Linked DNA regions of Homo sapiens: all the other regions are linked to region 3. The links come from fine-mapping of genetic effects on gene expression. A gene starts in region 3. Each other region holds a variant in brackets. All regions are shown on one strand. Distances are between the middles of the regions.

Evidence for each region. PIP is the estimated chance that this variant, and not a neighbour inherited with it, causes the effect.
Region 1: its variant is fine-mapped to the expression of RND1 in whole blood (TOPMed, PIP above 0.99). The same link has a PIP of 0.9 or more in blood mononuclear cells.
Region 2: its variant is fine-mapped to the expression of RND1 in whole blood (TOPMed, PIP above 0.99).

The regions. Positions count from the first base shown.
Region 1 is chr12:49,165,656-49,176,043 of GRCh38, forward strand. No RefSeq gene overlaps it. Among named protein-coding and RNA genes, the nearest start is that of TUBA1A, 18 kb to the right of the region's middle. RefSeq lists silencers at 4,605-4,798, 7,769-7,974. The variant CA/C (reference allele first, on the strand shown) is at 5,610.
Region 2 is chr12:48,839,946-48,850,333 of GRCh38, forward strand. It overlaps DDX23 (DEAD-box helicase 23), which reads right to left. Exons shown (of 17, transcript NM_004818.3): 2 at 5,629-5,837; 3 at 3,995-4,105; 4 at 68-161. The coding sequence starts at 5,837. Among named protein-coding and RNA genes, the nearest start is that of DDX23, 7.0 kb to the right of the region's middle. The variant C/T (reference allele first, on the strand shown) is at 4,315.
Region 3 is chr12:48,860,422-48,870,809 of GRCh38, forward strand. It overlaps RND1 (Rho family GTPase 1), which reads right to left and starts at 5,449. Exons shown (of 5, transcript NM_014470.4): 1 at 5,227-5,449; 2 at 4,362-4,449; 3 at 1,588-1,697; 4 at 576-710. The coding sequence starts at 5,346. RefSeq lists enhancers at 5,263-5,382, 5,643-5,772.

The DNA of each region.
Region 1 (10,388 bases), 310 kb after region 3:
TACATTTTGTAGAGATGTAGTCTCAGCTGGTCTTCAACTCCTGGCCTCAAGTGATCCTCCTGCCTCAGCTTTTACCGTATTTAAACTTAACTTGAAGAATTTTAGATATCAACTTAAAAATGACTGGAGTTACATAGTTTAATTTCTTTTTTTTAGGTGATAAGCAAAAATGTAAAGAACACTGATACAGAGAAATGGTCACATAGCCCGGACATGGTGGCTCATGCCTGTAATCCCAGCACTTTGGGAGGCCAAGGCAAGTGAATCACTTGTGGTCAGGAGTTTGAGACCAGCTTGGCCAACATGGTGAAAACCTGTTTCTACTAAAAGTACAAAAATTAGCCAGGCATGGTGGCAGGCACCTACAGGTGCCAGCTACTCAGGAGGCTGAGGCAGGAGAATTGCTTTAACCCGGGAGGCAGAGGCTGCAGTGAGCCGAGGTTGAGCCACTGTACTCCAGCTTGGGCCACAGAGTGAGACTCCATCTAAAAAAAAAAAAAAAAAAAGAGATATGGTCACATAATCCAATTTCATAAGAAAATATGTACACTCAGCTGGGCGCAGTGGCTCACACCTGTAATCCCAGCACTATGGGAGGCCGAGGTGGGTGGATCACGAGGTCAGGAGATCGAGACCATCCTGGCTAACACAGCGAAACCCCGTCTCTATTAAAAATACAAAAAAAATAGCCAGGCGTGTTGGCGGACGCCTGTAGTCCCAACTACTCGGGAGGCTGAGGCAGGAGAATGGCATGAACCCGGAAGGCAGAGCTTGCAGTGAGCCGAGATGGCGCCACTGCACTCCAGCCTGGGCGACAGAGCAAAACTCAATCTCAAAAAAAAAAAAAAGAAAAGATGTACAATCATCTAGTCTCATGACTTTAAATATCTATATACTGGTAGCTCCCAAATTTGTATCTTCTACCCAGGCCTATTTTCTGAAACACATATCCACATGCCTACTCTACATCTCTGATTGGATGCCTAATAGGCATCCTAAATTTATCATGTCCAAAACAGAACTCTTGAATTCTACTCCACTCCAGTCCACACACTCACATACAGACCACTCCTTTCTTCTCCCAGGATTCTCCATCTGAGTAAATGTTACCTTTATTCACCCAGTTGCTTAGCCCAAAGACCTCTGAGTTATCCTTGACTTCTCTCTCTCACTCTCCTGCTCTAATATTTATCATCTAACGCATCAGCAAATCTTGTCAGCTCTACTTAACAAAACATAACCTGAATGTCTGCCATCTTTCTCTCAGACACTAAAATAATCTACTTCTTACTGCTTTCCTTGTTCTATTCTTGCTGTCTCTTTTTAAAAGTGATCCTTTTTTTTTTTTTTTGAGACCGGAGTTTCACTCTTGATGCCCAGGTTGGAGTACAATGGCGTGATCTCCAGCTCACTGCAACCTCTGCCTCCCGGGTTCAAGCGATTCTCCTGCCTCAGCCTCCTGAGTAACTGGGATTACAGGCGCATGCCACCACGCCTGGCTTATTTTTGTATATATTTTTAGTTTTATTTTTTTTTTTTTGAGATGAAGTCTCACTCTGTTGCCCAAGCTGGAGTGCAGTGGCACAGTCTCGGCTCACTGCAACCTATACCTCCCGGGTTCAAGTGATTCTTCTGCCTCAGCCTCCCGAGTAGCTGGGACTACAGGTGCGCACCACCATGCCCAGCTAATTTTTGTATTTTTAGTAGAGACAGGGTTTCACTATGTTGACCAGGCTTGTCTTGAACTCCTGACCTTGTGATCTGCCCACCTCGGCCTCCCAAAGTGCTGGGAATACAGGTGTGAGCCACTGCACCCAGCCTATTTTTGTATTTTTAATAGAGATGAGGTTTCACCATATTGTCCAGACTGGTCTCGAGCTCCTGACCTCAGGTGATCTGCCCGCCTTGGCCTCCCAAAGTGCTGGGATTACAGGCGTGAGCCACCACGCCCAGCCTAGAAGTAAATCTTAATGACGCTAAGTTAGGCAAAGGCTTCTTAGGTATGACACCAAAAGCATAAGTAACAAAAGAAAAAATAGATACATTTGACCTCATCACAATTAAAAACTTCTTTGCTTCAAAAGACACACTATCAAGAAAGTAAAAAGACAACCCACAAAATGAAGAAAATATTTGCAAATCATATATCTGTAGTGTTATATATTGGTTTTCATCTATGGTTCTTGGCTCATAACTTCCATATCCCTCTTTACAGTCTTTTGTTAGAATGTTGGGTGTGTTGAGCCTCAGGGCAGGCATCTGATGTTCTCCTGCCCTCTGTTCATGCTAATCTTCCCCGACCTTTTTTTCTTTCTTTCTTTTTTATTTTAAGATAGGTTCTCACTCTGTCATCCAGGCTGGAGTGCAGTGTTGTGATCTCGGCTCACTGCAACCTCTGGCTCCTGGATTCAAGCAATTCTCCTGCCTTAGCCTCCCGAGTAGCTGGGATTACAGGCACGCGCCACCACGCCTGGCTAATTTTGTATGTGTTTTTTTAATTAGAGATGGGGGTTTCACTGTGTTGGCCAGGCTGGTCTCGAACTCCTGGCCTCAGGTGATCTGCCCACCTCAGTCTCCCAAAGTGTTGGGATTACAGGCGTGAGCCACCAGGTCCAGCCTAATCTTTCCCGACCTTTCTGATTGTAGGTCTTAATACCCTCCCATGAGAGTGTCCCACCCTATAACCTGGGAGAAGGAATGCTGATGTCTTTAAGCTTCTGTAAAAACCCAAGATGACAGGGCTCAGTGAGCTTCCAGACAGCTGAACACATGGAGGTTACTGGAGGGTGGTGCGCCCAGGGAGGGGATGGAAGCTCCACACCCCTTCCCCCATACCTCACCCTACCTATTCTTTTTATCGGTATCCTTTGCAATATCTTTTATAATAAACTGGTGAATGTGTCTCCCTGAGTGTTGTGAGCTGCTCCAGCAAACTAATCGAACCCAAAGAAGGGGTCATGGGAGCGTCAACTTGAAACCAGTCGGTCAGAAGTCCCGGGGGCTGAACTTGTGACTGGTGTGTGTGGGGTTAGAGTCGGGGGCTGGGGCAGTCTTGGGGACTGAACCCTCAACCTGTGGGATCTGACACTATCTCTGAGTGATAATATAGGAACTGAATTAGAGGACACCCAGCTGGTATCTGCTACTTGGTGTGTGGAGAAATCCTCCACACATTTGGTCACAGAAGTTGTCTTCTGTTTGATGATTGTTGTGGTTTGAGAGTAGAGGAAAAACAGTTTGAAGAGAATTTTTCTCTATACATATATAAGATACTTGTATCTAGAACATATAAAGAACTCTTACAACTCAGTAATAAAAAGACGAATAATAAAATTTTAGGCTGGGTGCAGTGGTTCACGTCTGTAATCCTAGCACTTGGGAGGCTGAGGCAGGAGGATCACTTGAGCCCAGGAGTTTGAGGCCATCCTGGGCAACATAGTGAAACTCCATCTCTTTTTTTTTTTTGAGACAGAGTCTCACTCTGTCACCCAGGCTGGAGTGCAGTGGTGCAATCTCAGCTCACTGCAACCTGCAACTTCCCTGTCCTGGGCTCAAGAAATTCTTGTGCCTCAGCCTCCCGAGTAGCTGGGATTACTAGTGCACGCTGCTACACCCAGCTAATTTTTGTATTTTAGTAGAGACTGGAGTTTCACCATATTGGCCAGGCTGGTCTCGAACTCCTGACCTCAGGTGATCTGCCCGCCTCGGGGTCTCAAAATGCTGGGATTACAGACATGAGCCACCACGCCTGGCCAAGACCCCATCTCTATTTAAAAAATAAAATAAAAATTTTAAATGGGCAAAGGCTCTAAATGTAGACTTCTCCAAAGAAGATACCCAAATGGCCAATAAGCACATGAGAAGGTACTCAAGTCTTTAGCCATCAGAAAATGCAAATCAAAACCCCAGTGAGATACCACTTCACACCCACTAGGATGGCTATAATAAAAGAAGACAGAAAATAACAAGTCTTAGTAAGGATGTGGAAAAATTGGACCTTCTTACACTACTAGTAGGAATGTAAATGATATAACCACTTGGGAAAATATCTTGGCAGTTCCATGAAATATTAAACAGATCTATAGTAAGACCCAGCAATTCCACTTCTAGGTGTATACTCAAGAGAAATGAAAATATATGACTGCACAAAAACGTGTACACAAAAGTTAACAGCAGTATTATTCATAATAGCCAAAAAATGTAAACAACCCATCAATTAATAAAGAAAATGTATATCCCTATAATGGAATATTATTTGGCAATAAGAAGAAGTACTGGCCAGGCACAGTGGCTCACACCTGTAATCCTAGCACTTTGGGAGGCGGAGGCAGGTGGATCACGAGGTCAGGAGTTTGAGACCAGCCTGGCCAATATGGTGAAAGGCAGTCTCTACTAAAAATACAAAAGTTAGCCTGGCATGGTGGCGCATGCCTGTAGTCCCAGCTACTCAGGTGGCTGAGGCAGAAGAATTGCTTGAACCCAGGAGGCGGAGGTTGCAGTGAGCCAAGATTCCGCCACTACACTCCAGCCTGGGTGACAGAGCAAGACTCCGTTCCACACCCCGCTCCCCCAGAAAAGAAAGGAAGTACTGATACATTCTACAATATAGATGAACCTTGAAAACATTGTGCTCGGCCTGGCACAGTGGCCCCTGTAATCCTAGCACTATGGGAAGCCGAGGCAGGCAGATCACCTGAGGTCAGGAGTTCTAGACCAGCCTGGCCAATATGGTGAAACTCCATCTCTACGAGAAATACAAAAATTAGCTGGGCATGGTGGCACGTCCCTGTAATCCCAGCTCCTTGGGAGGCTGAGGTTGGAGAATTGCTTGAACCTCAGAGGCAGAGGTTGCAGTGAGCTGAGATCATGCAATTGCACTCCAGCCTTGGTGACAGAGCAAGACTCCATCTCAAAAAAAAAAAAAAAAGAAAACTTTGTGTTAAGATAACGAAGCCCTATATTACATGATTCTATTTGTATAAAATGTCCGGAATAGGCAAATTCATAGGGACAGAAAGTAGATTACTGTGTTTGCCATGAGCTAGTACAAGGAAGGAGATAATGGGGAGTGACTGCTAATGAGTGCACAGTTTGAGCTTTTGATGAATGACAAAATTAAATTCTGGAACTAGTGAACAGACAAATATAAAAATTTAAAAGGACAGATATTGCACAAGCTGGTGAATATACTAGAGACTTTAAAATTATAAAGGGTGAATTTTATGGTGTGTATATTTTATGGCGTGTATATCAATTAATAATACAAAGAGATTGCTATATTCTAAAATTTCATGCCCTGGTGGTGTTCCTCATCACAATTTGGATCATTGAAATGGAAATATTTCCAAAATAGATGTACTTGAATGGATTAGGAAAAGAAGAAAGAAAGAAGCCAGTTATGAATGCCTGCATATTGTATGCTTCCTTCTACATTAAATGTCCAGAATAGGGAAATATGCAGAGACAGAAACTAGATTAGTGGTTGCCTGGAGATAGTGGTTGCCTAGGTTACAGAGTTTTTTTGGGGGGTGATGAAAATGTTCTAAAATTGTGGTGATCACACACCTCTTAATATACTAAAAGCCATTGAATTGTATACTTTTTTAAAA[CA/C]TTTTTTTTTTACTTTTTTATTTTTATTTTTATTTTTTTGAGATGGAGTATCTGTCACCCAGGCTGGAGTGCAGTGGTGTGATCTCAGCTCACTGCAACTTCCACCTCCCGGATTCAAGCGATTCTTCCAACTCAGCCTCCCGAGTAGCTGGGATTATAGGCATGCGCCACCATGCCCTGCTAATTTTTGTATTATTAGTAGAGTTGGGGTTTCACTATGTTGGCCAGGCTGGTCTCAAACTCCTGACCTCAGGTGATCCACCCACCTCGGCCTCCCAAAGTGCTAGGATTACAGGCATGAGCCACCTCGCCTGGCCTTGAATTGTATACTTTAAATGGGTGAATTGGACAGTATGTGAATTATATTTCAACAAACCTGTTATATTAGGAAAAGAAAAATCAAGTGATAAAGTGTGAGGGACTGAGTTAGCCTTCAGGTAGGAAGAGTGACTATTAGCCTATCACTGTGCACTGATTTTAACGGCTCAGGATACTTAAAATAGCTACCCAAAATAGCATCTTTGCTCAGATGGTGCTTGAAATTCTCTTCCTGGAGATTTCTTTAAAAGTTGAATCTTTAGTTTCTAAAAATTCCCTGTTTAAATGCCAGTACTTCAGGGAAAAATAACTTCTTAAGCAATCAGCTCCAATTTTTTTGTTTTTTATCTTTCTCTGTTGCCTAAGCTGGAGTGCAGTAGCACTATCACAGCTCACTGCAGCCTCCACCTCCTGGCTCAACAGATCCTCCCACCTCAGCCTCCTTAGTAGCTGGGGCTACAGGCACATGCCACCACGCCTGGCTAATTTTTGTATTTTTTATAGAGTCAGGGTTTCGCTATGTTGCCCAGGCTGGTCTCAAACTCCTGGCCTCAAGTGATACACCTGCTTTGGCATCCTAAAGTGCTAGGATTCAGGCGCGAGCCACCAAGCCTGGCCAATACTCTTAATATTTGATAAAGATCCTATTAGACATCTCTCTAGGCATATACACATATATAATTTTATGTAAATAGAGATACTATATATTGTAGAAAAACAAGACTTGGCATTATGTTTGGTTATGAATCTTTTAGAGGCACTTCTTTTATTTATTTATAATTTGCAAGCCTGAGAAGAGAAAACTAGATCCAGGATCTGTGATTTTTCTAAGAATTACAGAATCTATGTAATCATATGTACTTATTGGTTAAATTCTCATTATTATTATTATTGTTATTATTATTTTTTGAGACAGAGTTTCACTCTTGTTGCCCAGGCTGGAGTGCAATGGCGCAGTCTTGGCTTATTGCAACCTCCGCCTCCCGGGTTCCAGTGATTCTCCTGCCTCAGACTCCTGAGTAGCTGGGATTACAGGCCTGTGCTACCACGCCTGGCTAATTTTTGTAATTTTAGTAGAGACAGGGTTTCACTATGTTGGCCAGACTGGTCTCTAACTCCTGACCTCAGGTGATCCACCTGCCTCGGCCTCCCAAAGTGCTGAGATTATAGGCGTAAGCCACCGTACCCGGCCATGCGTGATTCACTTCTTATTAGCTACAGCAAAAGTGATGAGATGTCACTTCCGATATTACATTACAAAAAGACTGTGACTTTCATCTTGGCAGCTCTCTCTTGCTGTCTTGCTCACTTGTCCTGAGGGAAGCCATTTGCTGTCTGCTACTCTTTGGAGAGGCCCTTGCGGCAAGGAATTGTGGGAGGTTTCTGACCAACAGGCAAAAAGACCTTAAATATCTGGCCTTCAATATCCTGGACACCCAACACCCAAAGGTGCATTGAGCTGTTGTTTCCTTATATAATCCCTAACATGGGAGCCAGTCAGTCTGCCTACCAGGCCTCTGCCTAGGTCCCTGATGTTTTCCCCTTGTGTTATTTCTTGGATACCTGGCCTGATCTCTTTAAGCTCCTTTCTCTAGGGTTAGCTCCTCTTCGTCTTATTACATTGGACTTTCTTTTAATTTTTATTTTATTCATTTAATTTTTTTTTTGAGACGGATTTTTGTTCTGTTGTCCAGGCTGGAGTGCAGTGGTGCGATCTTGGCTTACTGCAACCTCCGCCTCCCAGGTTCAAGCGATTCTCCTGCCTCAGTCTCCTGAGTAGCTGGGACTACAGGCATGTGCCACAACGCCCAGCTGATATTTTGTATTTTTAGTAGAGACAGGGTTTCACCATGTTAGCCAGGATGGTATCTATCTCCTGACCTTGTGATCTGCCCGCCTTGGCCTCCCAAAGTGCTAGGATTACAGGCGTAAGCCACCCTGCCTGGCCTCATTTAATTTTTTTTAAAGATAGGGTCTCCTCTCTATCACCCAAGATGAAGTGCAATGATGTGATCATGGCTCACTGCAGCCTTGACCACCTAGGCTCAAGTGATCTTCCTGCCTCAGCCTCCTGAGTAGCTGGGACTACAGACATTGGCCACCACACTCAGCTGATTTATTTTTTGTAGAGACAGGGTCTCGCCATGTTGCCCAGGCTTGTCTCAAACTCCTGGCCCAAGTGATACTCCTACCTCAGCCTTCCAAAATGCTGGGATTACAAGTGTGAGCCACTGAGCCCAACTTTATACTGGACCTTTTGATTCATTACTTCTGATGCTGGATTGGAAATGGTGGTATGTTACTGTCATTCTCATTTTCTTTTCTTTTCTTTTTTTCTTTTTTTTTTTTTTTGAGACAGAGTCTTGCTCTGTTGCCCAGGCTGGAATACAGTGGCCAATCATAGCTCACTGCACCTTGATCTCCCAGGCTCAAGAGATCTTCCTGTCTCAGCTTCCTGAGTGTCTGGGACTCCAGGCACTGCCACTGCACACAGCTAATTAAATTTTTCTTTTTTCTTTTTTCTTTTTTTTAAGAGAGACTGGGTCGTGTTATGTTGTGCAGGCTGGTCTCAAACTCCTGGCCTCAAGCGATACTCCTGCCTCAGCCTCCCAAAATGTTGATATTACAGGCATGTGCTACTGTCCACGGCAAGTGTCATTTTCTTTCTACAGCTGTTTCCTACCTCCTTACTCCATTTACTAGATGGAAGCCTGCCCTATGTCTCAGGGTTTTTTTGTTTTTGTTTTTTGTGGTTTTTTTTGAGACAGGGTCTTGCTCTGTCGTCTAGGCTGGAGTGCAGTGATATGATCACAGCTCACTGCAGCCTTGCACTCCTGAGCTCAAGGGATCCTCCTGCCTTGGCCACCTAAGTAGCTAGGACTACAGGGCTGCGCCACCACGCCCAGCTAATTAAAAAAAATTGTTTTGACTGGGCACATTGGCTCACGCTTGTAATACCAGCACTTTGGGAGGCCAAGGCAGGTGAATCACTTGAGGCCAGGAGTTCAAGACTAGCCTGGCAGACATGGTGAAACCCAGTTTCTACTAAAATAAAATTACAGGCCAGGCTCGGTGGCTTATGCCTCTAATCCCAGCACTTTGGGAGACTAAGGTGGGTGGATCACGAGGTCGAGAGATCGAGACCCTCCTGGCCAACATGCTGAAACACTGTCTCTACTAAAAATACAAAAATTAGCTGGGCATGGTGGCATGCGCCTGTGGTCCCAGCTACTTGGGAGGCTGAGCCAGGAGAATCGCTTGAACCCAGCAGGCGGAGGTTGCTGTGAGTCGAGATCGCACCACTGCACTCTAACCTGGCGACAGAGACTGTCTTAAAAAAACAAAAAACAAAAAAAAAAAGTTTTTTTGTTTTTTTTTTTTTAGAGATAAGGCCTCCCAAAGTGCTGGGATTACAGGCATGAGCCACTGCACCCTGCCTCAGTCAATTTTTTTTTTTTTTTTGAGACGGAGTTTTGCTCTTATTGCCCAGGCTGGAGTGCAATGGCGTGATCTTGGCTCACCGCAACCTCTGCCTCCCAGATTCAAGTGATTCTCCTTCCTCAGTCTCCTGAGTAGCTGGGATTATAGGCATGTGCCACCACGCCTGGCTAATTTTGTATTTTTAGTAGAGACGAGGTTTCTCCATGTTGGTCAGGCCGGTCTCGAACTCCCACCCTCAGGTGATCCGCCTCCCTTGGCCTCCCAAAGTGCTGGGACTACAGGCATTAGCGACCACGCCCAGCCGCCTCAGTCAATTTTGATCCACTCTACCAGGTATGTCCTAACTCAACTGCAAATCACACTCACTTCCACATTGGCTGCACCATTTATGGTAAGTGAATCCATCCACTTGGTTCATGTACAAAACTATATCTTGACCAAATATAGAACTTTGGATCTACTTTTGTTCACTTTTCTTTATATAATTTTTGTGTATATATTTTTACATGTTCATATGTATATATTTAAGTGAAAACTTTTGGCCTAGCGCTCAAATACTACCCACTTTCTTCAGAGCAGTGGAAAGATGGTCCAATAAATTATCTGATTTTTTTTATCTTAGGCATCTATTTCCATTATAGCATATAATCTTTCACTTAATTGCCAAATTCAAAGCTACACTCTATTTACATATAATTCTTTTTTTTTTTTTTTTTTTTTTTTGAGACAGAGTATCGCTCTGTTGCCCAGGCTGGAGTGCAGTGGTGCAATCTTGGTTCACTGCAGCCTCCATCTCCCCAGTTCAAGAGATTTTCCTGCCTCAGCCTTCCATGTAGCTGGGACTACAGGCATGTACCACCACACCCAGCTAATTTTTGTATTTTCAGTAAAGACAGGGTTTCACTGTCTTGACCAGGCTGGTCTTGAACTCCAGACCTCATGATCCACCTGTGACCCACACTTGGCCTGCCAAAGTGCTGGGATTACAGGCGTGAACAACAGTGCTGGGCTAATTTACA
Region 2 (10,388 bases), 20 kb before region 3:
TCTCCCTTTAAAGATCAACAAAGCAACGCACGAGTTGAAGATGAAAAATATCCTTCCTCTCCTTTACCTTAGGCTTCTTATCACCATGTTCATCCTCTTCATCCTTCTTAGAGTCTCTGTCCTTCCGAGATTTAAAGTCTTTTCCTCGACCAGGAGATAAGCTTTGAGGAAAAGGAACAAGGTCCACATCACTCTTACTTCAGTGCCTGGATGAGGTTCAAGTTGAGCCCCGAAAAGAGAATGGAAGTTTCCCCATGACTCAACAAGACTGGCCCATGGTCATCTATCATGTCTTGAAACTCTCTTAGCAGGCATGGTCATTCTGCCAGCTCTGAAACCTAATTATGGCCCTGTCTTGGCCCCTTTCTACCCAAATCTCCTTTTGAGACTAATCTCTTTTGGGAAGTGGGACTTTACTACTGATGTCAAAAATATTTCCCCTAGGCCAGGCGCGGTGTCTCATGCCTATAATCCCAGCACTTTGGGAGGCTAAGACAGGTGGGTTACCTGAGGTCAGGAGTTCAAGACCAGCCTGGCCAACATGGCAAAACCCTGTCTCTAGTAAAAACACAAAAATTAGCCAGGTGTGGTTGTTTAGAGAAAAATTTTTTTTTTTTTTTTTTTTGAGACACAGTCTCACTCTGTCGCCCAGGCTGGAGTGCAATGGTGTGATCTCAGCTCACTGCAACCTCCGCCTCCTGGGTTCAAGAAATTTTCCTGCCTCAGCCTCCTGAGTAGCTGGGACTACAGGCGAGTACTGCCACCACTGGCTAATTTTTATATTTTTAGTAGAGACGAGGTTTCATCATGTTGGCCAGGCTGGTCTCGAACTCTTGACCTCAGGTGATACATCCACCTCGGCCACCCAAAGTGCTAGGATTACAGGTGTGAGCCACAGCGCCTGGCCCTCCTTAACTCTTTAATATACAATGAATTTAGCCTACATGGCCACCACCACAAGCCAAGAAGATACTGCTATCTATATTCCCTCATCATTTTTCATTCCTATCAATCCCAACAATCCTTTCCCCATACCTGCTCTAAGCTTAATCTACAAGATAATTCAAACAACCCCACTGAGTTTCTGTTAGGAGCATTCTGTCCTCTGCCTTGAATTCTAACCTATACTTTCAGGGCCTGATAAGAACTCTGTATACAGGCCAGGCACAATGGCTCACGCCTGTAATCCCAGCACTTTGAGAGGCCGAGGTGGCCGGATCACCTAAGGTCAAGAGTTCGAGACCAGCCTGGCCAACATGGAGAAACCCTGTCTCTACTAAAAATACAAAAATTAGCCAGGCATGGTGGCGCATGCCTGTATTCCCAGCTACTTGGGAGGCTGAGGCAGGAAAATTGCCTGAACCCAAGAGGCAGAGGTTGCAGTGAGCCGAGATCGTGCCATTGCACTCCAGCCTGGGCAACAGAACAAAAACTCCATCTCAAAAAAACCCCCAAAGATTCAGAGAAGAATCCATAGATAGAAAAGCTTCAGGCTCCCTCTCCCCTCTCCCCTCTCCCCACGGTCTCCCTCTCCCTCTCTTTCCATGGTCTCCCTCTGATGCTGAGCCAAAGCTGGACCGTACTGCTGCCATCTCGGCTCACTGCAACCTCCCTGCCTGATTCTCGTGCCTCAGCCTGCCGAGTGCCTGCGATTGCAGGCGTGCGCCGCCACGCCTGACTGGTTTTCGTATTTTTTTGGTGGAGACGGGGTTTCGCTGTGTTGGCCGGGCTGGTCTCCAGCTCCTGACCGCGAGTGATCCGCCAGCCTCGGCCTCCCGAGGTGCCGGGATGGCACACGGAGTCGCGTTCACTCAGTGCTCAATGGTGCCCAGGCTGGAGTGCAGTGGCGTGATCTTGGCTCGCTACAACCTCCACCTCCCAGCTGCCTGCCTTGGCCCCCCAAAGTGCCGAGATTGCAGCCTCTGCCCGGCCGCCATCCCATCTAGGAAGTGAGGAGCGTCTCTGCCAGGCCGCCCATCGTCTGAGATGTGGGGAGCGCCTCTGCCCTGCCGCCCCGTCTGGGATGTGAGGAGCGTCTCTGCCCGGCCGCCCCGTCTGAGAAGTGAGGAGACCCTCTGCCTGACAACCGCCCCGTCTGAGAAGTGAGGAGCCCCTCCGCCCGGCAGCCACATCGTCTGAGAAGTGAGGAGCCCCTCCGCCTGGCAGCCACCCCGTCTGGGAAGTGAGGAGCGTCTCCGCCCGGCAGCCACCCCGTCCGGGAGGGAGGTGGGGGGGGTTAGCTCCCCACCCGGCCAGCCGCCCCGTCCAGGAGGGAGGTGGGGGGGTCATCCCCCCACCCGGCCAGCCGCCCATCCGGGAGGGAGGTGGGGGGGTCAGCCCCCGGCCCGGCCAGCCGCCCTGTCCGGGAGGTGAGGGGCGCCTCTGCCCGGCCGCCCCTACTGGGAAGTGAGGAGCCTCTCTGCCCAGTCAGCCGCCCCGTCCGGGAAGGAGGTGGGGGAGGTCAGCCCCCCGCCCGGCCAGCCGCCCCATCCGGGAGGGAGGTAGGGGGGTCAGCCCCCCGCCCGGCCAGCCACCCCGTCCGGGAGGAAGGTGGGGGGGTCAGCCCCCCGCCCGGCCAGCCGCCCCGTCCGGGAGGGAGGTGGGGGGGTCAGCCCCCCGCCCGGCCAGCCGCCCCGTCCAGGAGGTGAGGGGCGCCTCTGCCCGGCCGCCCCTACTGGGAAGTGAGGAGCCCCTCTGCCCGGCCAGCCGCCCCGTCCGGGAGGGAGGTGGGGGGGTCAGCCCCCCGCCCGGCCAGCCGCCCCGTCCAGGAGGTGAGGGGCGCCTCTGCCCGGCCGCCCCTACTGGGAAGTGAGGAGCCCCTCTGCCCGCCCACCACCCCGTCTGGGAGGTGTACTCAACAGCTCATTGAGAACGGACCATGATGACAGTGGCGGTTTTGTGGAATAGAAAGGCGGGAAAGGTGGGGAAAAGATTGAGAAATCGGATGGTTGCCGTGTCTGTGTAGAAAGAGGTAGACATGGGAGACTTTTCATTTTGTTCTGTACTAAGAAAAATTCTTCTGCCTTGGGATCCTGTTGATCTGTGACCTTACCCCCAACCCTGTGCTCTCTGAAACATGTGCTGTGTCCACTCAGGGTTGAATGGATTAAGGGTGGTGCAAGATGTGCTTTGTTAAACAGATGCTTGAAGGCAGCATGCTCGTTAAGAGTCATCACCACTCCCTAATCTCAAGTACCCAGGGACACAAACACTGCGGAAGGCCGCAGGGTCCTCTGCCTAGGAAAACCAGAGACCTTTGTTCACTTGTTTATCTGCTGACCTTCCCTCCACTATTGTCCTGTGACCCTGCCAAATCCCCCTCTGCAAGAAACACCCAAGAATGATCAATTAAAAAAAAAAAAACCCAAAAAAAACAAAATCTGGTGGCAGATGCCTGTAGTCCAGCTACTCAGGAGGCTGAGGTGGGTGGATCACCTAAGCCTGGGGGAGTCAAGGCTGCAGTAAGTTGTGATCACACCACTGCACTCCAGCCTGGGCAAAAGAGACCCTGCCTCAAAAAAATAAATAAAAATAAATAAGAAAGAGAGCTCTGTAATAACTACCAACAGAATCTGTTAAGAGAAATCTACTTTCTTTCTTTCTTTTTTTTTTTTTTTTTTTGAGACAGAGTCTTGCTCTGTCGCCCAGGCTGGAGTGCAGTGGCGTGATCTCGACTCACTGCAGGCTCCGCCTCCCGGGTTCACGCCATTCTCCTACCTCAGCCTCCTGAGTAGCTGGGACTACAGGCACCCGCCACCACGCCCGGCTAATTTTTTGTATATTTAGTAGAGACGGGGTTTCACCATGTTAGCCAGGATGGTCTCGATCTCCTGACTTCGTGATCCACCAGCCTCAGCCTCCCAAAGTGCTGGGATTACAGGCGTGAGCCACCACGCCTGGCGAGAAATCTACTTTCATAAGAAGCTGAGCAAACTCAGGTGCAGAGAAGAAATGGGAGCATTCCCCTAAAGCCCCCTCTCATTCCTTCATGTACCTGGATCGTTTACGGTCCTTGTCCCGTCTGTGCCCATCCTTGTCTCGATCTCGGTCCTTCTTATTCCGATCCCGCTCCTTATCTCGTTCTCGTTCTTTGTGCCGTCGTTCTCTGGAAGACCGCAAATTTAAGAGTTCACTTGGTATTTCCAAAGTATCTTGCTTCACTGCAGCCCTGAGAAAGTTCCTATACTCTCGTCCCAAAGTAATGTTTTACAAATTAGAGAATGTATCTCTCACGGAAATAACGAGGGAATTCTAAGAAGCTTTTATAGATCAGAGATGTACTGTTAAATATTAACGGCAATGACAGGTCACGGA[C/T]TATGTGAACAGATGAACCTTCCTTTTTTATTTTTTTGAGATGGAGTCTCACTCTCACGCCCAGGCTGGAGTGCAGTGGTGTGATCTCGGCTCACTGCAGCCTCTGCCTCCCGAGTTCAAGGAATTGTCATGCCTCAGCCTCCCGAGTAGCTGGGATTACAGATGTGCACCACCATGCCTGGCTAATTTTTGTATTTTTAGTAGAGACGGGGTTTTGCCATGTTGGCCAGGCTGCTCTCAAACTCCTCACCTCAAGTAATCCACCTACCTCGGCCTCCCAAAGTGCTGGGATTATAGGTATGAGCCACCGCGCCCGGCCACAGATGAACCTTCCTTGATAACCCGGACCTTCACCTTACTAGTTCCCTCTCAACTTTTTTTTTTTTTATTTTTAGTAGAGATCAGGTATCACTGTGTTAGCCAGGATGGTCTCGATCTCCTGACCTCGTGATCCACCTGCCTCGGCCTCCCAAAGTGCTGGGATTACAGGCGTGAACCAACCGCGCCCGGCCCCCTCTCAACTTTTAAGAGTTGGGTCACTGAGGAAAACTGAAAACACCTGCAGGTCCAACTGGGCTAGGAGTAGATTAATGTACAAAAAGTAGATGCCTAGCCGGGCGTGGTGGCTCACGCCCGTAATCCCAGCACTTTGGGAAGCTGAGGTGGGTGGATCACCTGAGGTCGGAAGATTGAGATCAGCCTGACCAACGTGGAGAAACCCCGTCTCTACTAAAAGTACAAAATTAGCCAGGTGTGGTGGCACATGCCTGTAATCCCAGCTATTCGGGAGGCTGAGGCAGGAGAATTGCTTGAACCTGGGAGGCAGAGGTTGCAGTGAGCCGAGATCGTGCCATTGCACTCCAGCCTGGGAAACAAGAGTGAAACTCCATCTTTTAAAAAAAAAAAAAAAAAGGCCAGGCGCGGTGGCTCACGCCTATAATCTCAGCACTTGGGGAGGCTGAAGCAGGCAGATCACGTCAGGAGATCGAGACCATCCTGGCTAACACGGTGAAACCTCATCTCTACTAAAAATACAAAAACATTAGCCGGGCATGGTGTCGGGCGCCTGTAGTCCCAGCTACGCACTCAGGAGGCAGAGGCAGGAGAATGGCGTGAACCTGCGAGGCGGAGCTTGCAGTGAGCTGAGATCGCACCACTGCACTCCAGTCTGGGTAACAAACAGAGCGAGACTCTGTCTCAAAAAATAAAAATAAAAAGTAGATGCCTAATACTGGAGGCATCAGAAGAACCAAGAAGGAAGAAATCTGAAACGTACTCTCCCTTCCCATGTAATAACATACAAAGTTACTTTACCTTTCTGCAGATTTGGAACGGGAACGAGAGCGAGAACGGCTGCCTCCTCGACGTCTATCCCTTGAACGATGCCGCTTTCTATCTTTAGATGGGGAAGACTTCCGGTCCCGGTCTCTATCCCGCTCTCTGTCAGGAGTCCGTGATCGCTTCCTTTCCTCCTTGGAAGGTGATGCATCACGGTCCTTTTTGTCAGCCAGCTCTCCTGCCATCTGTAATGAGTAGGAAGAGTACTTACAATGTACTAGGCACTGCTCTAAACTGCTTATATATAATTCAATTACCCTCAAAACAACCCTATGAGGTGGATATATTAGTATGTCTACCGTACAGATGAGAACGGTGGAGCTCAGGTATATAAAGGAACTTGTCTGAGGGCAGACAGGTAGTGGCAGAGTTGCAGGCAGTCTGGCTCCACAGGCCATCGTTACTCACTATATTGTCTCCCTGTAATTCCTTTCAGAGTCTCACTCTGTCACCCAGGCTGGAGTGCAGTGGTGCAATCATAGGTCACTGCAGCTTCAACTTCCTGGGCTCAAGCCATCCTCCTGCCTTGCCTAGCTAATTTATTTTTTTTATAGACAGGGTCTCACTATGCTGCCCAGGCTGGTCTTAAATTCCTGACCTCAAGCAATCCTCCTGCCTCAGCCTCTAAAAGGCTGAGATTACAGGCGTGAGCCACAGTGCCTGGTCGATTCCTTTTTATATATTCATTTCTAAATATGTACAGTGAATATACCATGTTTTTGTAATTAGACTACAAAAGAGTATTAAAAGAAGTGTTAGTGTATGAACAGTGTACCAACTATTTCTAGAAACATCCTATATTGCTTACTTTGAAGTTTATTAGGTCTGCCAACCCACTAGGATCAGTTAGCACTCATACGTCTGAGAGAGATAAATTTTCTTGAGCTCATAAAGAAAGCTCAATGGAGAAAAAAGTTTAACTTTGAGATCTGGATTACGTTATAATTAGCACCACAAGGAAAACCTGAATTTAAGTGGAGAAACACACTTTTACTCAGATTAAAAGAAATGTACCTCTAATTATGCAATGGGAAGAACTTGGTGAAGGGTACACAGAACCTCTATACACATTTTTTAACTTCCTGTGAAACTATAATTATTTCAAAGATATATATTTTAAATACCCAAAACTAGAGGTTGCAGAAGTCCTGATTGACATTCCCTATTCAGATTTTCACAACCTTGGTCATCTGCATAACCCAGTTTTGTGAAAGGTTTCAGCAGGAATTTTTTCTGTCTCCCTCCTACCTGGGAGACACCGAACACCACTCCCACACTGTCAACTCTTCTTTGGGCTATGAACTCTAGTTCAGCCAGGAGCTAAAACTGCAGCAAGCCTGAATCTGCAACCACCTCATCATCATCCCAAAGACTTGGGATACATTTCTCGCAACTTATTTTATCCCCAAATGGTTCAGCTCGAATGGTTCCTTAAGCTTTAGCTTACAAGCCCCTTTCTCATGCCATTCCCTGCCATATATCCTTAAGAAAGATTGTATAAAGATGAGAAAAGAAAAATGAACAAGAAGCACTTTCAAAAGGTGAGGACAACCCATTTTATCTCACAATCACCTGAGAAATGACTGATTGTTCTGTATCAGTACATCATGGCTATCACACAGAAATACCTATGTCTTGGGCTGGGCATGGTGGCTCACCGTGTAATCCTAGCACTTTTGGAGGCCAAAGCGGGCAGATCATGAGGTCAGGAGATTGAGACCATCCTGGCCAACACGGTGAAACCCCATCTCTACTAAAAATACAAAAATTAGCCAGGCATGGTGGCACGTGCCTGTAGTCCCAGCTACTCAGGAGGCTGACGCAGGAGAATCACTTGAACCCAGGAGGCGGAGGTTGCAGTGAGCCAAGATCATACCACTGCACTCCAGCCTGGCAGCAGAGCGTGATCCGTTTCAAAAAAAAAAAAAAAGAAAGAAATACCTATGTCTTGACTGGGTGTGGTGGCTCATGCCTGTAATCTCAGCACTTTGGGAGGCTGAGGTGGGTGGATCGCTTGTCCAGGAGTTCGAGACCAACCTGGGCAATATGGCAAAAACCCATCTCTACTAAAAATATAAAAAATTAGCCACGCATGGTGGTACACGCTACCCAGGAGGCTGAGGTGGAAGGACTGCTTGAGCCCGGGAGGCAGAGGCTGCAGTAAGCCGAGATTGTGCCACTGCACCCCAGTCTGGGTGACAGGGCAAAACCCTGTCACACACCAAAAAATAAAAAATAAAAAAAACACTTACAGCCCTAAGAAAACAATCCCAAAGGAAGGCTATTTTCTCTGTACAGCATCCTGGATTTCATTCATTCTTTCAACAAATATTCACCGAGCACCTACAAGGTGCCAGAAATTGTTGTAGGTAACGGAGACAAAGCAGTAAAGAAAACAAAGTCTCATGCTGGGCGTGGTGGCTCACGCCTATAATCCCAGCACTTTGGGAGGCTGAGGCGGGCAGATCAAGAGGTCAGGAGATCAAGACCATCCTGGCTAACAGGGTGAAACCCCGTCTCCACTAAAAATACAAAAAAATTAGCCGGGCGTGGTGGTGGGCGCCTGTAGTCCCACCTACTCGGGAGGCTGAGGCAGGAGAATGGCGTGAACCCGGGAGGCAGAGCTTGCAGTGAGCCGAGATCATGCCACTGCACTCCAGCCTGGGTGACAGAGTGAGACTCCGTCTCAAAAACAAAACAAAACAAAAAACAAAAAAAAAAAGAAAACAAAGTCTCCTACTTCATAAAGCTTAAATTCTAGTGTAGCGGAAAGGATTTTAAATAGTAATGAATGCTAATGAAGAAAATAAAACAGTGATATGATGGGTAGGGGTATAACAAGAGATAGATGGCTCAGGGAAGAAGTTTTAGTTGACATTTAAGCTGAGACTTGAATGATGGGAAAGAGGGCCATGAAAAGATCAGGGTAAAAAACCCTTGTTAGATACAAGAAATGTGAACTAGCTTAGCATGTTTGTCAGGTTTGTTTTGTTGTTGTTGTTGTTGAGACAGGGTCTCACCCTCTCACGCAAGATGGAGGGCAGTGGCACAATCACGGCACACTGCAGCCTTGACTTCCCAGGCTCAAGCGATCCTCCTGCCTAGGCCTCCCAAGTAGCTGGGACTATAGGCGCATGCCACCACACCTGACTAATTTTTTTTTTTTTTTTTTGAGATGGAGTCTTGCTCTGTCGCCCAGGCTGGAGTGCAATGGCATGATCTTGGCTCACTACAACCTCCACCTCCCAGGTTCAAGTGATTCTCCTGCCTCAGCCTCCTGAGTAGTTGGGATTACAGGCGCGTGCCACACCACGCCTGGCTAATTTTTGTATTTTTAGTAGAGGCGGGGTTTCACCATGTTGGCCAGGCTGGTCTCAAACTCCTGACCTCAGGTGATCCGCCCTGAGTGCCCAAAGTGCTGGGATAACAAGCATGAGCCACCATGCCCGGCCCCAACTAATTCTTAAAATTTTTATTAGAGACAAGGTCTCAATTTGTTGCCCAGGCTAGTCTTGAACTCCTGGGCTCAAGGGATCCTTCGGCCTCAGCCTCCCAAAGTGCTGGTATTACAGGTGTGAGCCCAACTACACGTTTGTCAGTTAAAAACATATTTGTTTGGCCAGGCCTGGTGGCTCATGCCTGTAGTACCAGCACCTTGGGAGGCCAAGGCGGGAGGATCACTTAAGCCCAGGAGTTCGAGACCAGCCAGGGTAATATAGCAAGACTTCCCGTCTATTTTGAACAATAAAATTTTACATTTATAAACAGTTAAAAATCAGCCGGAGGCCAGGAGCAGTGGCTCACGCCTGTAATCCCAGCACTTTGGGAGGCTGAGATAGGCAGATCATGAGGTCAGGAGTTCGAGACCAGCCTGGCCAACAGGGTGAAACCCCGTCTCTACTAAAAATACAAAAATTAGCCAGGCGTGATGTCAGGCATCTGTAATCCCAGATACTCGGAAGGCTGAGGCAGAACTGCTTGAACCCAGGAGGTGCGGGTTGTTGTGAGCCGAGATAGTGCCACTGCACTAGCCTGGGTGACAGAGCAAGACTCCCTCTGTCTCGAGAGAAAAAAAAAAAAAAATCAGCCAGGTGTGGTGGTTCACACTTGTAATCCTAGCACTTTGGGAGGCTAGGGTGGGTGGAATGCCTGAGCTCAAAAGTGCTCAAGAGCTCATAGGCAGAGGCCTGGGAGGAAAATATCGTCCAGGAACACGGCTTGTGCCCCCAGGAGCCAATACTACCTATGGGGCCCATGCCCCTTCGCTCCTGCCTGGGGAGGATCACCTGAGCCCAGGCTGAGGTGGAAAGACTTCTTGACCCTGGGAAGCACTAATGCAGGAGGAATACTGATTCAGGATGAGTTCAGTGAGCTGGGCAGGAGTCAGATAATGAAAATGTGTTACAGGTCAGAGTAGAGTTAACTTGGATTTTAACTGCAATGGGGATCTTAGAAGAGCTTTAAACAGGAAGCAATCTAATACTTTGGTGACTTGCAAGAAAATATATAGCAGAGAGACAGAGTGAAAACACAACCACTGAGAGTGCTATTATGGTACTCTAGGCAAGAGATGGCAGTGGCTTGTTCTAGGAACGTGGCGATGGAGATGGAAAGAAGTAGGCAGCGTCAGAGTATATTTTGGAGGCAAAGCTAACAGGACTTACTAAGGAAGAAGCAGAAAGAGCAGACACAAAGATAGCTCCTAAATTTATAGTTTCAGCAACCTAATAGTTTGT
Region 3 (10,388 bases):
TCTGTCACTCAGGCTGGAGTGCAGTGGCATGATCACAGCTCCTTGCAGCCTCAACCTCCTGGGCTCAAGCAGCGGTCCTCCCACCTCAGCATCCTGAGTAGCTGTGACTACAGGCACTCACCACCACACCCAGCTATTTTTTTTTTTTTTTTTTTTTTTTTGGTAGAGACAGTCTTGCTTTGTTGCCCAGGCTTATCTCAAACTCCTGGGCTCAAGCTATCCTCCTGCCTCAGCCTCCCAAAGTTCTGGAATTACAGGCATGAGCCACCTTGCACCTGGCCTCTTTTTTTTGTGTGTGTGAAATTCTAACAAACACCTCTAATGATTCTAACGCAGGTGGTCAGAATACAATCTTAGAAATGTGGGCACACACAGGAATAACTCACCTGCTAACTGACAGCATACATCTGGGTAAGCAGGTGCCCACCACCTCTCTCCAGGTGACTCATTTGCTAATTATAACAGCAATTCTCTCTTGCCATAGTGGAAGAATTTGAGCCAGGGCCATATTTCAAGCTGTCTGCCTCTAGCCTTCCTCACTCCACCCCACGACATGCACTTGCATGCGCACACACCTGCTCATAGGAGATGGGCGCCTGCTTCTGGTGGGACAGCTCCATCAGAGTACTCAGGTCTGTTCGCAGGTCTGTCTTGCAGCCAATGAGCAAAACGCGGGTGCTGGGACAATAATCTAGGATTTCTGTCCTCCACTGAGGGGTGGAGCAGGAAGAAGGGTAGGAGAAGGAGGAAGGAAGGAGAGTTAGTGGCAGACAGATACCAGGAGAAGCTTGGCTGGCAACGTCACACACATCACCTCACTCATCACCAGCCCAGTCCTCCCTCTGAGTCACAGCATCACCGTTGCACTAATTACATCATTTTCCTGCCCATGAGGCCTTTGGGGCCCCCAGAGTGCTGACCCAGGAGCCTGTTCCCCCAGTCTATGGCTCAGTCACCAGAGAGGGCACAAGGGCAATTCTCCTCCCACTCTCTGCCAACCATATAGGCATGGATCTGCCCCCTCACCCCAAAGGGCCTCACAAGTCCAGAATGCCAGGGGGAAGCCAACCAGTCTCTTCTCAAGGGAAGAACATGATCCCAGCATCTTCTATACTATGCTAGATACACAAGGTTTCCTAGGACTCCTCAGCATTGGTGGATCTGCCCAGACCTAAGCATTTCATACCAGCAGCTCAGCTCAGACCTGCCTGGCTTGCCCATTCTCAGTGGGACTGGGATCAGGGTCTATAGAAGCTGCCTCCAAAAGGTCCCATGCCTGACCCTCATACCGTATCACCTAAAGGTTCTCTGACTCTCCGTCCTCTGCTTCCTGAGTCTTCAATACCACCCTCCCTTGCGGGGCCTCTGGCAAGGCAGCATGGGATAACAAAAAGGGCGGGAGGCAGTGGGGTAAGGAGACCCAAGTTCCAGTCCCAGAGCTGTAGCTAATGGTGTGGCCTTGGGCAAATCTCTTCCTTCCCTGGCTTCCATTTCTTGATGTTATACAAGAGGGCATTCATGACAAGGTCCCGATTCCTTCTTGGTCCTCATGCTGAGTTAGAGATTAGAGAGTTGATCTAGTCTTACCTTCTTGAGTGCGCTGTCCACTGTCTCTGGACGGCTGATGTCAAAACATAGTAATACTGCATCCGAGTCGCTGTAGCAGAGTGGACGGACATTATCGTAGTAGGGAGATCCTGGTGTAGGCCAGAAAGAGCTGATGGTGAGCCATGGTGTTTTCCTTCCCCAATAGGCCTAAGCCCTAAAGCCCTGGGAATACCATCCTCAATCCCTGAGGATCCACCCATCTCCCAGGGGGAATGTACTGCGGCTGGAAGCTTGGGACCTGACTGTCTGCCAGAAGGTCATGAAAGAATATCATCCCCCTTAGTCCAGAAAAAGGGAAAGAAGACAAAATAAAGTGGGTGGAGTATAATTTGGCCCTGTTTGGGTCTCCTACAGCAGGCTTAATTGGAGATCTACTAGTTTTCTGAGTCCCAGAAGATGCTTCCAGCCCTGCAGAGAGACAGCACTTATTTCAGGGCTTCTCTCTTCTAGAGCCTGCCTGCTGCCCAACTTCACTCCCTTCTGCTCCAGGGTCTCCCCAGTGAAGAGAAAAACCTCCTTGTTACATAACCTGCCTGCTGCTTTTCCATGGGGTCAGAACTTTAGGAGGCTAGCAGGGGAGGGAGAGAATCAAGGGTTCAGTGCCCCACTTCTCCACCCACCCAGATCGGCTTACACTGAAAAGGGCAAAAGGAAAGCTGTACCTCCTGACCGCCCCACATCTCAGGAAGGCAGTCTCAAAGACAGCAGCACCGATGGCTGGGGATTTAGAGGCTAGAGCAAGAGTCCTTCGTTGGAAGGGAAATAGGCAATGCAGACCCAGGTGGTCCCATATGGGAGAATGCTAGGAGCTGAGCCTGCCCCCTCCACCCTGGGGAAGGAGCAGTAGCGGATTTGGAACCCAGACAATCCGTGCTCAGAATAGCAAGCAGCCCCTCTCCCTGCACCACAATCGCCATGGAAACTGGGGGGAATCCAAGCTGGTGGGGGGATGTTGGTCATTAAAAAAAGGAATACAGGGGAGTTGGGATAGCTGCCTGCTCCTTCAGCAAGCCTCCTCCATCCCTTTCTGAGGTGGGGTCTTACCACTGCAGCACTGAGGAGCGGAAGCACTGCAGCACTGGGGAAGGGGGAGGGGAGGAGGCCTCCATTTTGGCTCCAAGCAATCCCCCTCCCCTAAGACTAGCAAGTAAATAATGGGAACAGGGTCAACCCTGAGCCCAACATTGGGAAACCCTATCCCACACACCATGGCCACTTCCTCCTTCCTTATGGGAACCTAATCTGAAAGAGGGAGTTTGAGAATAACTGACAGCCTTTATCCTTTCGGAAATTGGGGGTGGGGGTGTGACACAGGGAACAGAGACTACACTTGCTGATTTTCCATGATCTGGTTTGGGATTTGAGGGCTGCATTCTGACTGTCAAAGGAGGGAGGAGGTGGGGGGAGGGCGTTTGGGCGGTGGTAGTGAAAAGAGATGAGCTGCAGTAAGATTCTGGGAAGATTGGAAGGTGGGAGGGTACAGCAGATGAAAAACCAAAAATTATACATCATGCCATCAAGCTGCATTCTAGCCCAATCTTGCCAGCATAGCACAGCCCAGGAGAACCAGAACGCTGCCTCCCAAGCCCTGAAACTGCAACAGGGAAAAGCATACCAGATTGGGGAATTTTTGTTTGGGGAGGAAAGGCTCATTGTCTGTCTAACCATTCCCTAGCCCCAATCTTTTCAGACCTCAGAATTAGAGCATGGGAACAACAGCTGTTGAAGGAGCAGGACAGCATATTTATTATATGTAGCAGGAAACACCTAGTGATTTACGGTCCCTTTTTAAACTCAGCCTGAATATGCATTTTTGGGGAGGGGTGGATTTTATTTTCTTTCTCTTATTCCCGGCTTTTACTCCTTAATTATGACTCTGAGCCAGTCTATTGAAAAAGGTCTGGGGTAAAGAGATAATGGGAAGGGGTCAGAATCAAGGCAAAGGATAGCCTAGCACTAAGGGCTTGGGGCTGAGAGGCTGGAAAAACATTGTTTCTACATTCTAGAGAGACAGGGCATATTCTACCTCACCCCAGTAGAGGGAAAACAGTCAGAGCCAACCTCCCCTCTGCCCTGCCGGCCACTATTCACAACTGACTATGCCCTATATTAAGCCATCTCCCCCAACTTCCAAAACATCGATGATGCATTGCTTCATCCCCGAGCTGCAGCGGTGTGACGAGTGGGGCTGAGCTGCGGCAGGAGGACAGCAGTGGCCCAAGATGGAATGCAGGAGACAAAACTGAGTCTGAGCAACCTTTCCCCAAAGCAGACTTGTCTCTCCGCCCCAACCACGCTGCCTCCAGCAGCACTGCCTCTTGCCTCTTATTTGGCTTTGCTCTGGGGAAGTAAAAGGTGTGTGTGTGTGTGTGTGTGTGTGTGTGTGTGCGCGCGCGCGCGTGTGTGTGCATGTGTGTACGCGTGCATGTTGGGTGGTAGGGAATGGAAATGGAGAAGTCCTGTTTTACTGCCCACCCCCAGGACTATTCATGGGTCCCTTCACCTCACCATCCCAGCCCTCTAAAGGGTGGAACCAGACCCAGGGAAGAGAGTGGCTCCTGGGGTTCACCCACTCTGCACCCTTGGACCATGCAACTGAGTCCACCAACTGTCAGCCCTCCCCACAACTAATGAGTCTTCAGATCCTCTTTTTTCACTTCTCCCCACCAAAGGGGAAAACAATTTCTAAAAGACAGCAGCTACACAGCAGACCAGTAGGGGTGGGAAAGGGGTATTTGGAGCAGAATTCTTACCTGAGGTATCCCAGAGACTAAGCTCCACCCTCTGTTCCTCTGTCTCCAAACAGGCTGTGTAATTTTCGAACACGGTGGGCACATAGGTCTGTGAAAAGAGAGGAAACATTCACCCCATGCACCCCTACCCTCAGATCCCCTGGTTAGTGCTGGCTACACACGCACTCACCAGAGAGACAGTAAAGTCACAGGAGACAAGAAACCAGAGGAGATGCCTGGGGCAGGAGGGAAGGGACTGTGGAGGACCAGGCACTTTGCTCTGCAGCAGTGAGAAATGTGAATGACACCCCCCCACACCACCACACCAGGGGTAAGCCCCCCATATCCTAGGCGATCAGGGACACACACACACACAGATTCCTCCCATCCCCAGATTTGTGTTTCCCAATTTGAGAGAGCCACAGGCCAAAGCCAATCCTAGCTCATCTCCTCTCAAACCCCTCCCGGCCAGGTGAACAGAGGGGCTGCAGAAGCCTGCCTGAAGGCACAGGCATAGAGCCTTTGAGGAGCAGGTGAGCGGATAGGCAGGGATTACGTCAAGAAGAAACCCCAGACTTTCAAATGCCTCCAGTGCCCTCACCTGAGAGCAGACTCCAGGGACGCAGGAAGGTGGAGGGGATCTGATGGGTCCTCTGGGTGAAGAGGTGAGGAGGAGCCAGCGGGGCGGCAGAAGTGGAACAGGTCTCAGGGGAAGCTAAGGCAGGGCAGTCCTCCAGCCAAAAAGCAGCTGAGGATGGTAAAGCCTCAGAAAGCGGCTGAGGATGGGCTGGGGCTGGGGGAGCCACGTCTCCTGAGCAGGTGGAAATCTACCCCAAGGCGGGCAGGCAGGGAGAAAAGCCGGCCAGCGGGCGGGCGGGCAGCTCACCTCTGGATAGCAATCCTTCGCTAACACTTGCAACATCGCGGTCTTCCCACACTGCACGTCCCCGACCAGAACGAGCTTACATCTGGCCACGACTGGCTGGGGGGCCCGTCTCTCCTTCATGGTTGCAGTGTCCGCGGGACTTGAACTTCGATTCAGAAGGGAGGGTTGCGCCAGGTGCGTCTCAGCACGCCAATCAAGCCAGATTCCCTGCCTCCCTCCAACTGAGGAGGAGGCCGGCACAGCCGCCTTTTATTTTTCTGGCTGAGCCAATCACAAGAGGAGGCGGACTCTGTTACGCCCAATCCCTGAGGTGGGATTCCCTCCAGCAGCCAATGGATCTGAGGATCTGAGTCAGCGCCCCCTTCCTCCCTTCTCTTTCTCTTAAAGCTGCACCGTTGTTTCCCCCTGAAAGGGGATTCCCAGGTTGTTTTGCATTTGTATTAGGAAGTGGAAAGGGTACTGGAAGCAAAATGAAATGATCTGGAGTGTCTACCAATAAGTGTCAGAAAAACAAACTAGCTATGGAAGCAGGAAGTGAGGTCAGGCTGGAGTTGCAGGGACTGTCCCGGGTGGGTTACAAAAGCAGGACCTGCTTAGACTATAGACAGGTGTGTGTGTGTGTGTGTGTTTTGGAGGAGTAGGGGATGGGGGAGGTGGCCCAGAACTTCTCTGACATTTTTTTTCTTTTTTTTCCTTACATCTTTTGTTTTAAATAGAGACAGGGGTCTCACCATGTTATCCAGGCTGGTCTTGAACTTCTGGGCTCAAGCAATCCGCCTGTCTCAGCCTCCCAAAGTGCTGGGACTACAGACATGAGCCACAGCGCCTGGCCTGATGTCTGACTTTTTTGTTTTTTCTAATTCCCATCCAAACCAGTTCTTACTTCCCTTTATTTCCCCTCCCAATATCAGCTCCTGCTGTACCTCTTTTATTTATTTATTTATTTATTTATTTATTTATTTATTTATTTATTTATTTATTTTGAGATGGAGTTTCGCTCTTGTTGCCCAGGCTGGAGTGCAATGGCACGATCTCAGCTCACTGCAACCTCCATCTCCCGGATTCAAGCGATTCTCCTGCCTCAGCCTCCCGAGTAGCTGGGATTACAGGCATGCACCACCATGCCCAGCTAATGTTGTATTTTTAGTAGAGACGGGGTTTCTCCATGTTGGTCAGGCTGGTCTCGAACTCCCGACCTCAGGCGATCCGCCCGCCTTGGCCTCCCAAAGTGCTGGGATTATAGGCGTCAGCCACCGTGCCCGGCCTGTGCCCCTTTTAAAGCCTTCTCTTCTTCAAGAATCACCTTCACCACCAAAGACAGAGAGAGAGAAAGAGAAAGAGAAAACTTTCTAGAGTCATCCATAAAAAAAACACACAGCACCTGACCCAGTGATGGGCAGAGAGAAATGAGGGACTCTGGCAAGTGGGGGTGGGAGAGAGGAAGAAGACAAAGCAAACACAGTCACTGTTTGGCCAGACAGCCTCTCACCCATGCCTAGCAGAAGCTGCTTAGGGGTGTTTGTTCTGCGGCCTAGGCTCAGCTTCCTGGATGAATCAGGCACAGGTCCAGTTCCATGTTAACGCCCACTGAAACTGACGCACTAATGTGTGTCACCTGGTTAAAGTCCAGACTGGGCCCAGGATTTTGGGATTAGAAGCTGGAGGACAATCTAAGGTTGAGATGAACTACATAAATTTTTTTTTTTTTTTTTTTTGAGATGGAGTCTCGCTCTGTTACCCGGGCTGGAGTGCAGTGGCTTGATCTCAGTTCACTGCAACCTCTGCCTCCCGGGTTCAAGCAATTCTCCTGTCTCAGCCTCCCGAGTAGCTGAGACTACAGGCGCACGTCACCATGCCTGGCTAATTTTTGTATTTTCAGTAGAGACAGGGTTTCACCATATTGGTCAGGCTGGTCTCAAACTCCTGACCTTAAGTGATCCACCCACATCGGCCTCCCAAAGTGCTGGGATTACAGGCGTGAGCCACCGCGCCCAGCCGAGCTTCATAACTTCTTAACAGCCCTGACTGATGGGGCCCCTGTATTTTGGGGAGCCTCTACTAGACAGAACTATGGGCTGTCCACAGCTTAAATAAACCACTGATTGTCCAGGAATCAAGACCGTACAAATAAGGGCTCCTGGAGATTTGTGATTGAAGGAAGACCAACTTTGGGCAAAATTGAGAGTAGTCCCTTTCCCTTGTCAAGCCCAGTGTCTCCTGGGCCTTGTTTCATCTGAGCTTTACTTTTTTTTTTTTTTTATACAGAGTCTTGCTCTTTCACCCAGGCTGGAATGCAGTGCCACAATCTCGGCTCACTGCAAACTGTGCCCGCCGGGTTCAATCGATTCTCCTACCTCAGCCTCCCGAGTAGCTGGGATTACAGGTGCCTGCCACCACACCCAGCTAATTTTTGTATTTTGAGTAGAGATGGGGTTTCGCCATGTTGGCCAGGCTGGTCATAAACTCCTAACCTTAGGTGATCCACCTGCCTCGGCCTCCCAAAGTGCTGGGGTTACAGGCGTGAGCCACTGTGCCCCAGCCTGAGCTTTACTCTTAATTCACAGTTGTTGCTGCCCCACCCAGGGATAGTTTCCCTGTGATAAAGGATGCTTGAAAGCCTTTCACAGACCCAAAGGGACAGATCTCTAAGAATGAGATTTCTAGTGCCCACCACAGGCAGTAGGAGAGTGGATGTTGTTTTGAGAATACAGCCTAACCAGTGTTCCTCCAGTCAAACCTCGTCGTGGCTCTGGGGCCAAGGCCTATACCTGCTCTCCACCCATGTCCTAAGCTCCATTCACTTCCAGGGATGGGGAATGGCCTGAGGGAAACTTCAGGGTGGAAAGGCCAGATGTTACCATTAGCTGGCTGCCGTCTCTCCCAGGCTTTCTGAAGGTTTCTGCCCTTTATCTCCCCTCATCCTCCACCCTCAGATAATGTTCTGTGGATAGAATTTGTCCTCTTCTTGCCCTTTTCCAGCAGCCTGACAGCCTCTGTGAGCTGTCTATAAGTGGGGTTTGGGATAGTTCCAGGAACAGCTGTAAGATCATAGACTGCCTCAATCTGGAGTCCTTTCCCTCAGCCTGACCTTCTCCTTCTGTATCCTCCTGTCCCCTACCTTCAGTCTCATCTGGGCTTAGTTCTGGAAGCATCAGTAGAGTTCCTATGCATCCTCTTTTTTTTTTTTTTTTTTTCCGAGACAGAGTCTTGCTCTGTTGCTCAGGCTGGAGTGCAGTGGCACAATCTCCGCTGACTGCAACCTCCGTCTCCCGGGTTCAAGCGATTCTCCTGCCTCAGCCTCCTGAGTAGCTGGGATTACAGGCACGTGCCACGATGCCCAGCTAATTTTTGTATTCTTAGTAGAGACGACGTTTCCCCATGTTGGCCAGGCTGGTCTCAAATTCTTGACCTTGTGATCCGCCTGCCTCGGCCTCCCAAAGTGCTGGGATTACAGGCATGAGCCACCGTACCCAGTCCCCCATACATCCTCCTAACCCTTAACTGAGTTCCCTCCAATCACAACCCCACAGGTGTTAGCCTTCTCTCCATGTTCTCTACCAGCCTCCCCCTACACACACCATTCATCCACCACTCCAAATAAACTTTCAGAATAAGTAAAAATTGTTCCTGCTAAGCAAACAGCTTCTTCTGGCTTCTAAGAACATTGCCATTCCTGAGCTCCTCCAAGACAGAAATTCTGAGAGCTGGTGCCAACACTGATTCTTCCCTGGGTGGCTGCATTTCAGGGTCAAGTAGCAGAAGGCCCGAGCCATTATACAGAGCAGCCTCCACCATGGCTGAGGCCCAAGATGTGTCTCCAAGGATATTTTGTGGGTCATATGTTTATGAGTTTTGGTGGAAAGGGTGTTATGTGTGTGAAAGCGTGTGTGTTAGATCAGTGGGCAGGGAGGTAACAGGAAAAGGATGGAACTGAAGTTCAGCAGGTCTAGGCCTTGGACCTCGCTCTGCCTTTAACAAGCTGTGTGCCTTTGGGTAAGTTACTTCCCTCTCTGGGTGCCTATTTCCTTAAATGCAATGTGAGGGATTTAACTAGAGAAGAAGTTTTTAGATGTTATTTAGTTTATTTATTTATTTATTTTTTTGAGATAGAGTTTTGCTTTTGTTGCCCAGGCTGGAGTGCAATGGCACGATCTTGGCTCACCTCAACCTCGCCCTCCCGGGTTCAATCGATTCTCCTGTCTCGGCCTCCCAAGTAGCTGGGATTACAGGCATGTGCCATCACACCCAGCTAATTTTTGTATTTTTAGTAGAGACGGGGTTTCTCCATGTTGGTCAGGCTGGTCTGGAACTCGTGACCTCAGGTGATCCACCCACCTTGGCCTCCCAAAATGCTGGGATAACAGGCGTGAGCCAGCGTGGTTGGCCTAGATGTTATTATTATTATTATTATTTTAGCACTTAGATTCTCTCCTCCAAATTTGTTTAAACCTCTTTTAAATAACTTTATTTCAAACTCCATAGCCAAGACCAGGTGTTGTGGCTCACACCTATAATCCCAGGATTTGGGGAGGCTGAGGTGGGAGGATCACTTGAGCCCAGGAGTTCAAAACCAGCTTAGGCAATAGAGTGAGACCCCATCTCTACAAAAAAACTTTAAAAATCAAATAAAAGTCTGTAGCCAGATTAATACATTAAAGTGGCTCTTCCGGGCCAGGCGCAGTGGCTCACACCTATAATCCCAGCACTTTGGGAGGCCAAGGTGGGTGGATCATTTGAGGTCAGGAGTTCGAGACCAGCCTGGCCAACATGGTGAAACCTCATCTCTACTAAAAATACAAAAATTAGCCAGGCTGGTGGCGGGTGCCTGTAATCCCAGCTACTCAGGAGGGTGAGGCAGGAGAATAGCTTGAACCTCGGGAGGCAGAGGTTGCAGTGAGCTGAAATTGCGCCACTGCACTCAAGCCTGGGCGACCGAGGGAGATGCTGTCTCAAAAAAACAAACAAACAAACAAGCAAACAAACGAAAAAAGGAAAGGTGGCTCTTCCCTATCAAGATCAGAAAAATTTAAAACAAGGTTATAGTTGAAAACATTATGCCAAGGTGGAAGAAGCCAACCACAAAAGACCATATAGACTATGTCCATTTATATGAAATGTCCAGAATAGGCAAATCCGAAAAGACAGAAAGTAGGCTAATAGTT